Regions from separate parts of the Homo sapiens genome. Here region 2 is linked to region 1. A link means that fine-mapping ties the variant in region 1 to the expression of a gene that starts in the linked region. Tissue or cell type: whole blood. Region 1 holds a variant in brackets; the other region holds the start of a gene. All regions are shown on one strand. Distances are between the middles of the regions.

Evidence for each region. PIP is the estimated chance that this variant, and not a neighbour inherited with it, causes the effect.
Region 2: it holds the start of ROCK2, and the variant in region 1 is fine-mapped to the expression of ROCK2 in whole blood (TOPMed, PIP above 0.99).

What each region holds. Positions count from the first base shown.
Region 1 is chr2:11,172,862-11,180,967 of GRCh38, forward strand. SLC66A3 (solute carrier family 66 member 3) reads left to right here. Exons shown (of 7, transcript NM_152391.5): 6 at 2,107-2,148; 7 at 4,876-5,995. The coding sequence ends at 4,967. It overlaps ROCK2 (Rho associated coiled-coil containing protein kinase 2), which reads right to left. Exons shown (of 33, transcript NM_004850.5): 33 at 6,898-8,106. Among named protein-coding and RNA genes, the nearest start is that of SLC66A3, 21 kb to the left of the region's middle. The variant T/G (reference allele first, on the strand shown) is at 4,769.
Region 2 is chr2:11,339,753-11,347,858 of GRCh38, forward strand. It overlaps ROCK2 (Rho associated coiled-coil containing protein kinase 2), which reads right to left and starts at 4,884. Exons shown (of 33, transcript NM_004850.5): 1 at 4,244-4,884. The coding sequence starts at 4,384. It overlaps LOC124907733 (a long non-coding RNA gene), which reads left to right and starts at 5,760. Exons shown (of 2, transcript XR_007086216.1): 1 at 5,760-5,937. RefSeq lists silencers at 4,199-4,928, 5,069-5,138, 5,209-5,368.

The DNA.
Region 1 (8,106 bases):
TTATTATTATTATTATTTTGAGACACAGTCTCGCTCTGTCACCCAGGCTGGAGTGCAGTGGTGCAATCTCGGCTCACTGCAACCTCTGCCTCCAAGGTTCAAGCGATTCTCCTGCCTCAGCTTCCTGAGTAGCTGGGATTACAGGCACACGCCACCATGCCTGGCTAATTTTTGTATTTTTAGTAGAGACGAGTTTTCACCATGTTGGCCAGGCTGGTTTTGAACTCCTGACCTCAAGTGATCCACCCGCCTTGGCCTCCCAAAGTGCTAGGATTACAGGCATGAGCCACCGCGCCCAGCCAATTTTTTGTAGAGAGGGGTCTCACTATGTTGCCAAGGCTGGTCTCAAACTACTGGGCTCAAGTGTTCATCTCACCTCAGCCTCCCAAAGTATTGGGATTACAGGTGTGAGCCACTGCACCTGGCCCTGTATGTTTTCTTTGGAGAAATGTCTGTTCACATGGTTTGCCCATTTTTTAATTGGGTCATTTGAGTTTCTTACATATTCTGGTCATTAACCCTTGTCAGATGTGTGGTTATTAACAGCCTTTTAAAAAGTTTGTCTGAGAGTCCTTTGTTGGCCGCCTTCCTAACTGAAGTCTTCTGTCTACTTATATGATTGAATTCTTTTATTTAAATGATGATTTAATCAACAACTATTTATGTGGTGTCTGTGTGTAAAGTCTTGGTTTATCAAATGTGTCAACAAAACATTTTATAGGATTTGGCCTCTGCCCTTCAGGGGCTTGCAGTTTAGTTGGAAGGTAGACCAAAAAACTTCTATGTCAATATGTGCTAAATGCAGAATGTGTTAGCAGAGAGTTTTGACAGGCTGGTTTTGGGCTAGGAAAGGCATGCCTTGAGCTGCAGGCAGTGGTCTTCTCTAACTCCCAAGTCACGCCACTCCCTGCTCTTGTGTGTCGGTTTAAACTGTTACTCCAATTTCCTAAATGTTTACTAAGTAAAGGGCTATGGCACACAAATAAACTAAACAAAATAGTTCTAGTTAGACCCTTGGAAAAATCTTCCCCTTTTCTGGGCCTCAGTCTGTTTATCTATAAAATGCAAGGATAGAAACCAGTGATTCGAAAACATTTATTGTTTGTTTTTTGAGACAGAGTTTCGCTCTTTCGCTTAGGCTGGAGTGTAGTGGCATGATCTCGGCTCACTGCAACCTCAGCCTTCCGGTTTCAAGCGATTCTCCTGCCTCAGCCTCCCAAGTAGCTGGGATTATTACAGGTGCCCGCCACCACACCCAGCTAATTTTTGTATTTTTAATAGAGACAGGGTCTCACCATGTTGGTCAGGCTGGTCTCGAACTTCTGACCTCATGATCCACCCGCCTCAGCCTCCCGAAATGCTGGGATTACAGGCGTGAGCCACTGTGCCTGGCCAAAACATTGTTTTTAATTAGTGGGAGCCTTTCTTTAAATAAAACTACCCAGATGCTCAATTTGTAAATGAGAGTTGCTTTTGGAGGGTTGGGGGTTGCAGGTTAGCACAGAGACAGTGGAAGGGAGCTCAGTCTCTCCGGCCTTCCGCAGGCAGCGCTCGAGTACCTTCTAGGTACCTTCCCTCATGAGCAGTTTCAAAACCATTGGGCCATTGGGGTAGGATGCATGGCTGTTTTTTGTTTTGTTTTGTTTTGTTTTTGAGACGGAGTCTGGCTCTGTCACCCAGGCTGGAGTCAATTGGCGCAATCTCAGCTCACTGCAACCTTTGCCTCCCAGGTTCAAGCGATTATCTTGCCGCAGCCTCCTGAGTAGCTGGGATTACAGGCGCCCGCCACTACACCTGGCTAATTTTTGTATTTTCAGTAGAGACAGACAGGGTTTTGCCATGTTGGCCAGGCTGGTCTCGAACTCCTGACCTCAGGTGATCCGGCATGGCTAGTTTTTATGTAATTATGAAATACAGCACTATTTGGTTTTCTGTACTACCAAACTCTGTCAAGAATAGTTAATATATGTTGTTAAAAAAAGAATAAAAATAATTTAAAAATAATGGTTAATATATATTGGGATATTAAAAGGGAAAGACATTATTAGCTAAGCCCCAAAATGTCCGAGAGGCAAGTTACTTATTGCTGCAAGTTTTCTTTTACAGCAAGAATAATCACAACCTTAATGACCACCAATGATTTTACAAGTAAGCAAAATATCTTCTCACTTCCTTTTTGAGTTTTGTGCTATTTGTGTCTCCTTCATTTGTAAACTGTCTTAGGGTTTAATGGATGGACTTGGCTCTGTTGGATTATAGATTTAGAAGATGGCAACAATGTATTCCTAGTCTTATTGGTCACCATTTTTATTGTTAAGCCTCTCCTTCTTATAGTACAGGGGATAGACTATGCACAAGACAATAGATTCCTATCTCCATGGAACTTCCACTTAAGCAGTGGAATTGGACATGAGGTAATCACACAATTCCCTATTGAATTCTAATGGGACATGGTTTGGAAGAGTAGGGCAGGATGAGCATCTAAGGAGAACCTGGCCTAGTTTGCAGGAGTTGGGCAGATTAATTTGAAGAAGAGTGATCGTAAGGATGAGTAGAGGTTTAGCCAGAGGAAAGGATGTGGGCGGAGGCCAGACTCTTAACAAGGAGCAGCATTGTGAAGGTCATGAGCGAAGGACAAAGGGCTAGAGTGCGGAGAGCAGGGGGACAGTGACAAGCGGGTTTCAGGAGAGGAAGGATGCGAGACTGGCAGTGGCCCAAGTATCCAGGGCCTACAAGAACTGCCTACAAAACAGTAGGAAGGCTCTGGAGGCTTTGAAGCAGGGAAGTGGTGTCACCAATGGACTATGTTTTTGTTCTGTTTCTTTAAAAGAAAAAGCTGTCATGGAGGAGGAAATACTATGGTTAACCACAAAAGAATTTAGTAATTCCTTAGGCTGTTTTCAACTCCCAAATCAAGCATATATTATACATCTTTGGAAAATGATTAGAACAGATGGTGTCACCTGTGAAGATCAGAAAATGTCCCCAGCATGTAGACCTTTTAAATGAGCTAATTATTATTTGAGAAATAGTGCTTCAGAACAGAGATATGTTTGTTAGTCTCTTCCTGGAGGTTATACCTTTGCTCGAATACTTTTTGTCAGCTCTGATGATAGGACTAAAATTGTTCTGGTCAAAGCATAAACTTTGATCAAGTGGGAAATGGGAAGGAAGACAGGCTTGGGTCTTTCCACAGGACTTGAATTCTCAGCATGGAAAGGAAAGTCAAACCACAAGTAAACAGCAAAACCTATACATTAGAAATTAAAAGATCAAGATTGTTCTAATTGTGATTTATTTCTTATCTATGACAGCTGTTCTTGAAAGTGATCAGTATATCCAGGAATAACTTTTTTGTTGTTGTTTTGTTTTGAGATGGATTCTCACTCTGTCGCCCAGGCTGGAGTGCAGTGGTGTGATCTTGGCTCACTGCAACCTCTGCCTCCCGGGTTCAAGCAATTCTCCTGCCTCAGCCTCCAGAGTAGCTGGGATTACAGGCATGCGCTACTATGCCCAACTAATTTTTGTATTTTTAGTAGAGATGGGGTTTCACCATGTTGGCCAGGCTGGTCTCAAACTCCTGACCTCAGGTGATCCGCCCACCTCAGCCTCCCAAAGTGCTGGGATTACAGGCGTGTGCCACCGCGCCCGGCCTGGGAATAACTTTTTTTTTTTTTTTTTTTTTGAGACGGAGTCTCGCTCTGTCGCCCAGGCTGGAGTGCAGTGGCGGGATCTCGGCTCACTGCAAGCTCCGCCTCCCGGGTTCACGCCATTCTCCTGCCTCAGCCTCCCAAGTAGCTGGGACTACAGGCGCCCGCCACTACGCCCGGCTAATTTTTTGTATTTTTAGTAGAGACGGGGTTTCACCGTTTTAGCCGGGATGGTCTCGATCTCCTGACCTCGTGATCCGCCCGCCTCGGCCTCCCAAAGTGCTGGGATTACAGGCGTGAGCCACCGCGCCCGGCCAGGGAATAACTTTTTAAAAACAGTTCAGCTAAAATCTTACATGTGTTTTTCAAACACAAAGATATCTTAAATCTCATTAAACCTATTTATCAGGAGTGTATCCGTACCTTAAAGTAGAAGTTAAGTCACTGTTAAAGTTATATATATTTATTTATTTATTTTTCCACAAAGAGACACATTTTCATGGTTACTTGAATATAAAATATGCCTTGTCCTGTGGGCCAGTTTTTCAGGATGATCTTAACAGAGTATGTTAAACCACCCTTGCTTAATATGGAACGTTCTGAGACAGCAGCACCCTCAGGACGTCAGATGAGTAAAGGGATTTTTAAAAGTTATAACCCTTCTTAGGCTGGGCACAGTGGCTCACGCCTGTAATCCCAGCACTTTGGGAGGCCAAGGTGGGCAGATTACTTGAGGTCAGGAGTTTGAGACCAGCCTGGGCAACATGGTGAAACCCTGTCTCTACTAAAAATACAAAAAATAGCCAGGCGTGGTGGTGGGCACCTGTCATCCCAGGTGCCTGGGGAGCTGAGGCGGGAGAATCACTTGAACCCAGAAGGTGGAGGTTGCAGTGAGCCAAGACAGGCCACTGAACCCCAGCCTGGGTGACAGGGCAAGACTGTCTCAAAAAAAAAAAAAAAAAGTTAAAAGTTATAACCCTTCTTAGCCAGAGCCACATTACTGTCAATTGAGCACTTAAGATGATAAATTATTATTTATGAAGTTGGGCCAAGGGGCCAAAAATTGTCATGATAGGGAGATCATTTCCCCAGAAATAACTGGAACCAAAATTGTTCAT[T/G]TCGGAGGTTGGGGGTGAAGCTTTATTTAGGCTTATACTTTGAGCAGGAGGTGGTTTTGGTCTGTATTGTAAAGACAGTTTTTAATACACTTTTTTTTTTATTTCAGTTCTTCTACGTTTTGTGATCATGCTGGCTTTAAATATATGGGTAACAGTGACAGTACTTCGCTACCGGAAGACCGCTATAAAGGCTGAATGATGGATACATTATTCCTTCACACAGTGGATTTTGAGTAACTGAACCAAAGGAAAAAGAAGCTCTTTGCTAAATTAAGGTCTTTTATAAATTTAGTAAATCAGTTTATAATCTTTAAAGCCAAAGGTTTTTTTAGACTTGAAAGAAAGAGCCACTTAAATTCTTGTTTAAAAATACCAATTTGCCTCCTCCTTCCTCACTTCGTTAGGTTATGGTAGTGCTCAGACATCTGCAGTGTTGAGGCCAGTCACTGTTGGAAGTCATCCAAGAAGCCCATTTTGAGGCCATTTTGAGCCTTACTCTTAAGTTCTCTATGAAGAACTACATTGATTTGTTGGCTTTCAGAATCTTTTAGGAAATAAATCCTCTCCAGGACAAAAATGAACATGAATGGAGTGGCATTTTGTTCCAAGTCAGAGGTGGGCACCTATAATAAATGACTAGGGTTCACTTTCTGGGACTGATGTTTAATTGTAACACAGATACAACAGGGTGGCCTTGTTGTGTATAATACGGTATTATACCCGCATGTGCTCTAGCAAGGATACCAAGGCAAGCATACATGTAGCTGGCTTGAGTTTGTACCAAAACAGTCCTTCAACTTTGCACTGTGCCTTAAGTAATTACTAACAAAAGGTACTAGGATTAGCTGCAATCTCTACTTTCGATGAGGAAATCCCAGTAAGCTTTCTGATTCAAGTACAATGCTGCCATTTTTTAAAGGGCCACAACTATAGAATTACCACTGTTGGAATTTGGTACAAAATATGTTTTGTCTATTGAAAACATACACGGTAAATGGTGTTGTTAGGTAGGTTCTGTCCAGTTCTTAGGGACTTTTTTCACATTATAGCATTTTTACCCTAAACATGATGTTGAGATTATTATATACTGTATTTTCTTCTAAATTAACCCTAATGTTTAAAAACTCACTTTCCCCCTTTAATTGAAGGCATTGTTTTGTTAGATGCAGTAATGATGTTTACCAGAGATTATTGTTTCCTATGCAAAATAAATTTTCATATTTTGAATTCTGCTGAGTCTTAAAACTGTCAATCATTAATATGACTATTTTATGTAAGGTATAGTTTTTAAACAAACTGGTTAATCCTTTTAGAACTACTGCTTGGGACCAACAGGAAGAGAAACATGGTATCTAAAGACAAAATTATTCATTCTGTAGTTGTTAAAATTACAGATGTCATATTTTTAAACATGCAAGTTAATCTTTTTTCATTTGCAGTTATAATCTGACCATTAGCATCAATACAAATTATATGATTTTTAGTCCAACAAATGTTATATTTAGATAACATTAGTACTTTATCACTGCTTAAAGCAACTCCTTTAAGAGCATACTTAGGTGACAGGGTCTCTGTTTTTCCCCCTTTGTAAGGCAACAAACACTCGAGCCATCTCAGACATTCTACACACATCATACTTACTTAATCTGCCAGTGATCCTGTAAAGTAGACACAATCTATATCTCCATTTTACAGATGAAAACACGGAGGCTCAGAGTGAATAACCTGCCCAAGAGCACATAGCAAATAAGTGCCCTAGAAAAGGTTCCACTGATTGCCAGAGAAACACTTTCTAGAAAATCACCTATCAATCAATCAGCACACTATTTCCTGACAAAACAGACATCCTGCCTCTTTTCCCTATCCTTACCAATTCAAATGAGTTTGTTCTATTATTTGCGTGCGTCTTAAAACACCCAAATCAGATCAGAGACAGGCTCCTGGTTGAAATTTGGTATTTCTCCATGAATTAAATCATAGGGCAGAAGAAACACAAGTCTACAGCCTTAGTTCTAAGACTTATTTACTATCCTCATCCCACTGTTTATACCCATCTTATAGAGAAAGCAAATGTTTTGGGTAAACTTTAGAAGGTTGCCGTATTCCAGGACTATTTCACAGGAGAAGTATGAAAATGCTTATGTCTCCATTTATTTTATTTTATTTTTTTATAAAAAAGCAGGCATAAAATACAATTACATTACTACGAAGATGCAACAAAATTTTAAAAAAGAAAAAGGGGTGCAATTTTTTTCAGAGAGGACAGCTGATCAAATATTTATAATTTTCTAAACCATGCAGTTCATTACTTATTACAATTCCAAACAAAACTCATTATTATGGGGATGGGAGTCAGGGAGAGGCCCCCCCCCAAGCATGATATCCAGCGCTGTCACACAGTGCTTATGTTCAAAGTGCTTACAAATGGTGTCTTCACAGCATAGGGAAGCTGAAGCCTTATTCCAGGGAAGGAGAGGTGAGTCAGTAGCAGTGTCAATGCAGACTCAGAAGCTCGGCAGTGACTTGCTCAAATCAGATTTTAGACACGATTTAAAGCATGTTTCAGTAAGGTTAATATAGTGTCCGAGTTTCTCTACTTTACCACCAGAATCCTAGAAGAGAGTAACAGCAGCAGCATAACTTCTTAAAACTGTGGTGTGGCAACCTAGAGTATTTCTGTTTAAGATCTATATATAAATGGATGCAAAATAGATACTTTAGAGCCAGATTCATGTAACTCTAACACAGGTTAGTTTTAAAGGCACTAACCTTTACTTTGGCTTTACTGGTATGCTTATCCATTAGTTAGCTGGAACATTTTAAAACTTTCATATAGATTTTTAAAACTTGTTTCTAGAGAACATGGTTTTTTAAAATTAATACTTTAAAAACATTCACTGTACATTAATTTCAACAGTAATACCGGCACCAGTTTTCCTTTCACTTCTGTCTCGTTATCCCCACAAAACAAAAGTAAAAAATCCAATAAGAAAATCCCAGTATTCATGATTTCTTAGTTCCCCATAGGAGGTATTTATGGTTCTAGGAGAAATCAGGTGTGAAGGAACAAGCAAATTTTAGTCTTATATTTATCTTGGAAGCTTCAGGGCCTCAAGAAAAACGAGAAACGAGCACAAAATCAGGTTGTTTTATATTTAATAAGTGTTGGGAAGAAAACACATTGATAGGTGCATGCACTCATGTATGTACATGAAAGCGGCAATGCGGTAAAAAGCGAATTCTTACCCAAGGTCAGAATTTTTTATTAAGCGCATTTTCATTAGTTGGACAAACAACCTTATAAACCCTTATGTCAAACCATATAATGTGAAGAATCT
Region 2 (8,106 bases), 170 kb after region 1:
GAGATACACACAAATGTAGTAATCTATGAAATGAAGCAAAGGAACAATAAAATGTTCAGGGTAGCAGATGAGAGAGGATGCAGGAAGACTGAATCCAGCAGCGGCGACGGCACACAGGTAACTTCTACAGGCTAGTGTTCCACTTATTAACTTGTGTGGTGATTTCATGAATATGTTTTTACGCTTCGTAACTTATATTTGCATACTATATTTTTAGAATTCAAAATGGGAAAAAGAGGGCTATCTGATCAAGACTTGGGAAATAAAAAACAAAAAAGTTAGGTTTCAAGATAATTATCCACTATTTATTTACAGCTACTGAAGTGTATGTAAGTCCGTATTTCCTTACTTAGTCTACATTGGCCTTACCCTGGGACCAAAATGTTTCCGAACTCAGAATTTCTTGGATTTTAGAAAGGTACACAGTACATATACTGTGTACTCCCAAAAATGCTCTTGAAAATCTGGGCAACACCCTGAAATCAAATACATTCATATTCCTCCAGCAAAAGGCATTATTATTTACATCAAGAGGAATGACTAGACCACAAGTATTCTAATGTGAGATTAGGTCAGATGTTATCATCAAATACATTTTACCAAAAACTGGGTTTTTTATATATCAAAATTGTGGATAAGGGATTGCGGACCTGCACTTGCTTCACATCAACAGTAAGTTCCACACATCACCTTTTTTTTAAAACCTCCCTAGCTAACTCATTTTCTTTAAATATCTCCTATCAACATGAAAGTTTTAAAGTAAACTAGTCACAAATTTTACACTATAAATGCCAAACTCTTCATAAAGAAAAAAATGTATAAAATGATTTTTAATTTTTATTCTATTTCATTTTTATTGTATCTTTATAATGTTCTTACTTATTACATGATGGGAAAAATACACATACAATTTTATTTTAACTAGGCAAATAACCAGCAGCATGCTGAAAGAGTCTAAGCACTGAGATAATATTGTCAGATAGTTTACAAGTATAATGAAATCAATCAAATTATTTTATGTTTTATGCCACTGAAAATTGTAAACAAAGTTTTAATCACCTTTGCCCATCCACACAAGTCTTAAGTAAGAGTTTACCCAAGCGTGAGTCCTACAGGTTATTGTGACTGTTTACTCTTTGAAAGAGTAAAATAAATCAACACTCAAAAAGCACAGACCTTTAGAAAAATATCTCTTCAGCAAAGCCTGAAACACAGTTCTTTTTACCATAATAGGTAAGCAGTATGAGAAGCTGGTCTTGACAACAAAGCATAGGTATTTACCCAAAGGTTTCAAACACTACAAAAGCATATTACTGAAGACTCGCCTCCAAAAAAAAAAAGAGGCAGTAGAGAAGCAAAACTCTAAGTAATACTAAGCGGCTCACAATCTGCAACCATAAAAGAGATATACTCTTCTCAGATTAATTTAAGGACCCACATAAAGCCATGAGCCTTTGCAGAGAAACAAGATGTCATCTTTACACTGATTTAGTCTTGGAATCCAGCTCTACCTATGCCTAATGATTGCTAGCACTTTTCTGATGACAAATTCAAATGATAATGCTACTCACTCAAAATTATGTAGCAAGAAATAGTTGCAAATAAAACCATTTTCCTTTGAAAAGAAAATTTAAAGCAGTTAACTAATAACATGCTAAGTGTGCACAGGAGAAGTGAACTAAATTTAATGAGCACTGTGATGTACCAAGCACTAGGCTAAGCACTTTACACGTTATCTCATAAAACTTTGTTTCCTACAGAGTTTTACCTTCTAGGCCTAGCCCACTGAAAGCATCATACAATCATTTCTGGTGTACTTCATCTTCTTTTGTCATCTTAGGTATATACTATTTTTAATGGTACTTTCTGAGCTCCTGAATGTAGTGTCGCAGCTGTGTTTGCTTTAAATTATATTCCTTTAAATTTTCTGTTAAAGACAAAATATGTATTTCCCATGGCAAAACCAAAAAATAAATGTCATAGGCAGTAAAACAATGACCAATAGTGAAATGCAACCTAAATGCTAAGGTTTCAGATCTTTAAAGTGATACCAGCCATTATTTCGTCAGTATTTCAGGAAATATAATTTTTATAACATTCTTTTAAACATTAATTTACAGTTTCAGTTTGGAAAAATGAAAAGATTCCAGAGACGGATAGTGGTGATGGCTGCACAACAATGTGAATGTATTTAATGCCTGCCACTAACCTGTACACTTAAAAATGGTTAAAAATGGTAAATTCTGTATACGCTACCACAATAAAAAATCCATTCTAGTAGTTCATAAATAAAATACGCGTAATTTAAAATTAATTTATTATAAAAAAATTTTTAAATTTCGTTTATCAATTTGTAACAGAAACACCAGGAACCTTGCTCCAAAGGAATAAGGGACGCATTTTGGCTTGGAAAGGTTTACTGCACCTCAAGCATATTTAACCAACTAGAAACAGCAATAACAGAGTCTGTCAAGTCATCAGCACCTGATGTCAATTCTCAGATCCGTAATGTGCCACCTTAATAAAAGTGTGTTTTGGCTGTAATAACTGCTAAATGAATGAACTGTGTCCTGAACATGTGAGATGTTTCACTTTTAAAAATAGCCTCCATTTTAATAATTTGGAAAGCAATAAAACAAAATGCATGATCATATTACATGTATAAGCTACTTACATTCAAGCTCAGAATAACTCTAATAATTATGATTAATATCATTAAAGATCTAAGATATCAAAGTGAATTGCAAAACGTTTCCATCTAGGATTTAGCATGAACCTGATGAATACTTGAGATTTGCTGTACTATTTTTAACTAAACTTTCTGGCCTTAGGTCAAAGTTTTGCTAGCAAAATACCAAAGTGAAAATGCTGGGAGTGCAGCCCAGAGTCTCCGCTTTAGCCTAGGAAAAGCTATGCCATCCATGCAAGCAATCTTACTCCCGATTAAAGACTTTCAAAGACTGCTCCCATTAAAACATAGGAACAACACATTAACCCGAAAAACAGTAAAACATCAAACACATGTGACACAATATAGCACATCATTCATTACTTTCTGTACACTGTGCAGAAAGACACTATATAGCTAAAGTCAGTTCCTGCATTTTGACCAAACAGGACTGAGTCACTCTGCAAACGATGCCTGAAACCTCAAAGGATAACCAACCGCCTCTGACCAAAAGCCAGTCCGTCCGTCCCTGGAAAGGGAGGAGGCAGTTTTTCTCATCATACAGTAAGGTTTATTCCAGGAGGGAATAGAACTAAACATCTGCATTCCAGCACAGAATGTCTAACGGATCTAAGGACCTCCCACCCTAGTTCTAGTCTTCCAGAGTCAATTTAATACACAGAGTATCGTTTTCACCTTTCTTCCCCTCCCCAGGGTAAAAGTCCACACCCCCTTTTCCCATAAATGCATCTACACTGCACACTACTCAAATTGCGAAATACAATCATCTATCCTAACAAAAATAAGAAATAAGCCAGCATTCTACGGTGCATTTCTATTTTGTAAAACATGCTCCTTTCTTAACCAAGAGCCAATTAGCAGCCTTTACGGTGCTATTAATCTGGATTTCAAAGGTCGTTATAGGAAAGAGACGCAATGAAGAGGACAGATTTATTCCACTCCACAATTCAGACTGATTTTTTGGCTCTGGCGCAATAATCTCAGGGAATTAAATTTACAGCAATTAAAATGCACTAAATAGCAAGTATGGAATGCTCAAACGCAAGTGAAAACAGCAAAACTTTAGCTGTGTGTTCCAAGATTTCAGACTAAAAGGAGAGAGTGAGGGCGGCTCTTTGTCATGTACCCCAGTGAGTACTCGCAACAGGGACAGCATCAGGTTTCTTTCTCCCTCGCTCGCACCAAGTCCCCACGTAGCATGACACTTTCAAATCAGCTAACCTGGTGTATGAAGCATGGCCAGTCCTCCACCCACCTCCCCAGAGTGGGCAGGCGGAAGGAGAAGAGGGGTGTTTTCCTCCCAGTGCTGCAAGAAAGGAGCAGCCGGGGATGACACTGGCTCCAGCAGGAGGTAGAGGGAGGAATCAAAGGCGGGTCACTACTCTTGGAACTCGGTGACAGAATCGTTTGGTCTCCGGCCCCGGCTGCCGGAAGCAGGGCGGGGTGGGGCAAGACCTCCCCCTCCCCACGGGCGGACGGGCACGGAGGGCTGGGCGGAGAGGGGATCTGAGGTGTGAGCTGCAACGAGCAAGCTCCCAGGCCCCGGCCACCTACCAGCAAGCTCTCCACGTTGATGGGGGAGCGAGGGTCTCGGATCAGCGCCTCCAGCTTCCTCTGGCGGCTCGCGCCTGCCCCGTCCCCCGGCGCGGTCTCGGGGGCGCCGGGCATTTTCCCCGTCGGCGGGGGCCGGCTCATGCCGCCACCGCTGGACCCGCACTCAGGCTCCTCGCGCTCAGGTCCCGCAGCCTCGGGGCCTAGCACCGCCCCCGAACCACCAGCTCCGGCCGGGACTCCACCCGGGCCCACCGCCTGCCTCTAGCTCCGGCTTCGGGTCTCCAAGGCGGTCCCCCGCCTGGGGGCTGCTCCCAGGGGCCCGCCCGGCCCAGCCCGGCCCAGCCCGGCCCGGCCCTGCCGGGAGCGGCGGGGAACAGACGGCGTCCCCGCCCCTCAGTCAGATTCGCGCCGCCGGTCCGCTGGTCCTCAGCGAGTGCCCGCAGGAGTCCTCGGGCGGGAGCAGGGAAGTGGCGCCGCCACCGCCGCGGCCCGGACCGCCCCGCCCTCTGGGGCCCCGGGAGGCTGAAGCCCAGGCCTGGGCCACTACGGCCGCCGCCGGCCCGCTGCCATGGTCGCCGCCGGCCGCCTTGCAGTCCCTCAGCCAGCTCCCGGCGCACACACTCCCGCGCGGCCGCCCGTCTCCGGCCGCGCGCCGCCGCTACCCACAAGCCCCTCCGCCCGCAGCCGCCGGCGCGCGTCCCCGCCGGCCCTGCGCGCGCTCCGCCCCGCCCCGCCCCGCGCACCGCGCTTCCTCCCTTTCTTTCCCTTCCTGCGTCTGTCCCGCTCCGCTTTCTCCTCTGCGCCCCTTCCTCGCCCGCCCTCGCCTCCTCCCCCTGGCGAGGTTCTCTGAGGCGAATAGCCGGGCGCGCGGTCACGGCCGAGCTCCTGCTGGGGGAGGGGAGACGCACCCAGGCCGGGTCCTTCCGCGCGCCCCCTGCCCCTCCCGCCGGACCCCGCGGACTACCCCGCGGCCCCGAGGCGGAACCCCAGACGCCGGGCCCAGCGCACCGTGCGCTGGGGGGGAGCCCGGCCGCGCCCCCCGCCGCGGCCCCCGCTGACTCAGCGCGCAGCTATGCGGGCCTCGCCTCACCCGCGCCCAAATAATAGCGACCGAGCTCGGCGCCCGCGAGGGGCCGCAGGGCCGGGGGTTTCGAGGCGAGCCTGAGAGGGGGCCCTGGGTGTCTGGGATTCCGAATTAGCGGAGGCGGGTGGAATCCTAGTCCTGGGGCAGGAGGGCCTGGGATCCTGAAAGCGTTTCTGCCCGGCTTAGACACTAACCACTTCAAGAGAACGGGAGAGCACCGGAAAAAGGCTTTCCAGCCGCAGGCCTTCGCGGGGTCTTCTCCTTTTGGGGGGCGGAAGAGGGGTGGTTATCGGGACCGTTCCGCCGCATTCCTGCCCTCTCGGCGGCCGGTGCCATCGCTTAGATCCGCCCAGGGCGCAATCCGAAAATTATGTGCCAAGAGCTATAAAACCGTTCATAGAGCCCCTTTGACCCAGTAAACCCATTTAAGGAAGTACATTTCCAAGGAAATGATCCAAAGGGCGAAGAAGGGGGAGAACTTGCAGAAAGATGTTAACAGCAGGGCTATTCACAATGTTCGTGATGACCAAAACCTGGGAATGGGCCCAGTTGTCCAACAATTGAGTAACCCAAACAGGCGCCTTCACATTAACAGCAAGAATCCTGGCAGGTATGCAGACTGTGTCAAACATGAAATTTTGGCAAGTACATGAGAAGGTATATTAGAAATAAATGAAACAAAAAAAATCGTTTGTACACACTAAAACTATGTAAAATGAGCAGCTATAAGAACCAGAGAATACAGTACTTCTTAAATAAATGGGATTTTTTTCTGTAAAGATACTTAAGAACAAATTAAATTTCAAAAAATGGAAAAACCACTCCGAAAAGCAACAATCTGATATCCATTAAGTAATAAGAATGTTAAGAACTGTCTCCCTGGCATGTCAGAGATAAACCCGAAGATAGGGTGAAGCCCCAGCCCTGTAAAAGTTGCATTTTGATCCAAACCATTGGATTAGTTGGAGCCTCTTCTTTGGTTTTAGGTTAGTTAAAACCACCCCTAGCTGGACTCATGCAGGAAGAGGCCCCGATGATCCATCCAATGCAGCTTTTCCCTTTCAGATAGTAACACTGACTTCACATCCAGAGAGTCCTTTAAGTCTGTGTATTGAGCTACTCATTCAGACCTCCACAGAGGCCACCAGGAGAACAGAGGGAGCTAGACACTCCCACTTATGCATTGGAGCAAAATAATGAGATAATCTATGATTATGGATTATTTTTCTGATGACAAAATAATATGCAAGGCAAAAGGAGCACTCTGTCTAGCGGGGCGTGGTGGCCTGTGCCTGTAGTCCCAGCTCCCCCTGAGGCTGAGTTGGAGGCCTCCTCCATTGAGCCCAGGAGGCCAAGGCTGCAGTGAGCTGTGATCACACCGCTGCACTCCAGCCTGGGCAACAGAGTGAGATTGTCTCAAAAAAAAAAAAAAAAAAACACTGTGGTTCTCAGTTTCCAAATTAATTTTGACTGGTTGTATATTTGTATGTAGCTTGGTGGAATAACAGGAAGCCATGGTCCAAATACCGAACATGAAAACCTTATTTTAAGAGTAGTGATCAACAAGATATATATCCTGGGCATGTTCTACATATACTTATTTATATAGACCAGAAAAAGCCATGGTACAGAAGATTTTTACCCAAGACCTATCCCATTGTCTACCTGGAAGAAGAGAAAATGAATCTGTTGATATGAGTTAAACCTTTTTGCAGGATGGGGTAAGGGTAAGGAGGAGGTTAGTACAACAATTCTTGTTTTCAAAAGTAATGCACAAATGCATTCTTGTAAAAGTTCAAACGAACCAGAAATATATGGAACATAATCTAAAATTTACTGTTCTGACTATATTTCCACATACATTCTTATATCACTCAAGGCCTTTGGCCATTCTCATACATATGTATTATAGATACATGTTACCTTTTCCCCACAGACATGAAATTATACCATATCATGGTGTTTGGCAACTTGGTTTTTTCCCTTCATTACTAATATGTCCTAGAGGCGTGTCCATGTCTATAGGCAGAGATCTGCTTCATTCCGCTTACCTGCTGTCCTCTACTCCCCAGTTTGGATGTGCCACACTGTAATTATTCTCTATTCGAGAGCATAGTGGTTAAGAAACAATTGCCAAAATCCTGCCCCAAACACACACTTGCCATGTGACCCTGAGCAAGTTACCTAACTCCTCTGTGTCTCGGGGTCCTCACAATATTTGTTATAAAGTGCTTAGAAATGTGCTGGCCCTCAATCAATGCTAGATATTATTAATATTTTCTCACTGTTAAAATGATCCATTGACATCCTCGTATCCTCATATTTGAATAGTATAGATTCCTAAAAGTGGAATTGTCATAACAAAGGGTAGGCATACTGTAAATACAGATGCTGCCAACCTGTTATTTATTTATTTATTGGAGGCAGGTTTACATTCTGTCCTTCAGGCTGGAGTGCAGTGGCACGAGAGATCTTGGCTCACTGCAACCTCCACCTCTAGGGCTCCAGCAGTCCTCCCACTTCAGCCTCCTGAGTAGCTGGAACTGCAAGCACACAACACCATGCCTGGCTAATTTTTGTATTTTTTGTAGAGACAGGATTTTGCCTTGTTGCCCAGGCTGTTCTCTAAGTCCTGAGCTCAAGCGATCCACTCACCTCAGCCTCCCAAAGTGCTGGGATTACAGGGGTGAGTCACAGAGCCGGGCCTCAACCTGGCCTTTAAAAAGACGCTACCCGTTTACATTCTCAGCGTGAGTAGAAGAAACTGCCCATGTCCCTT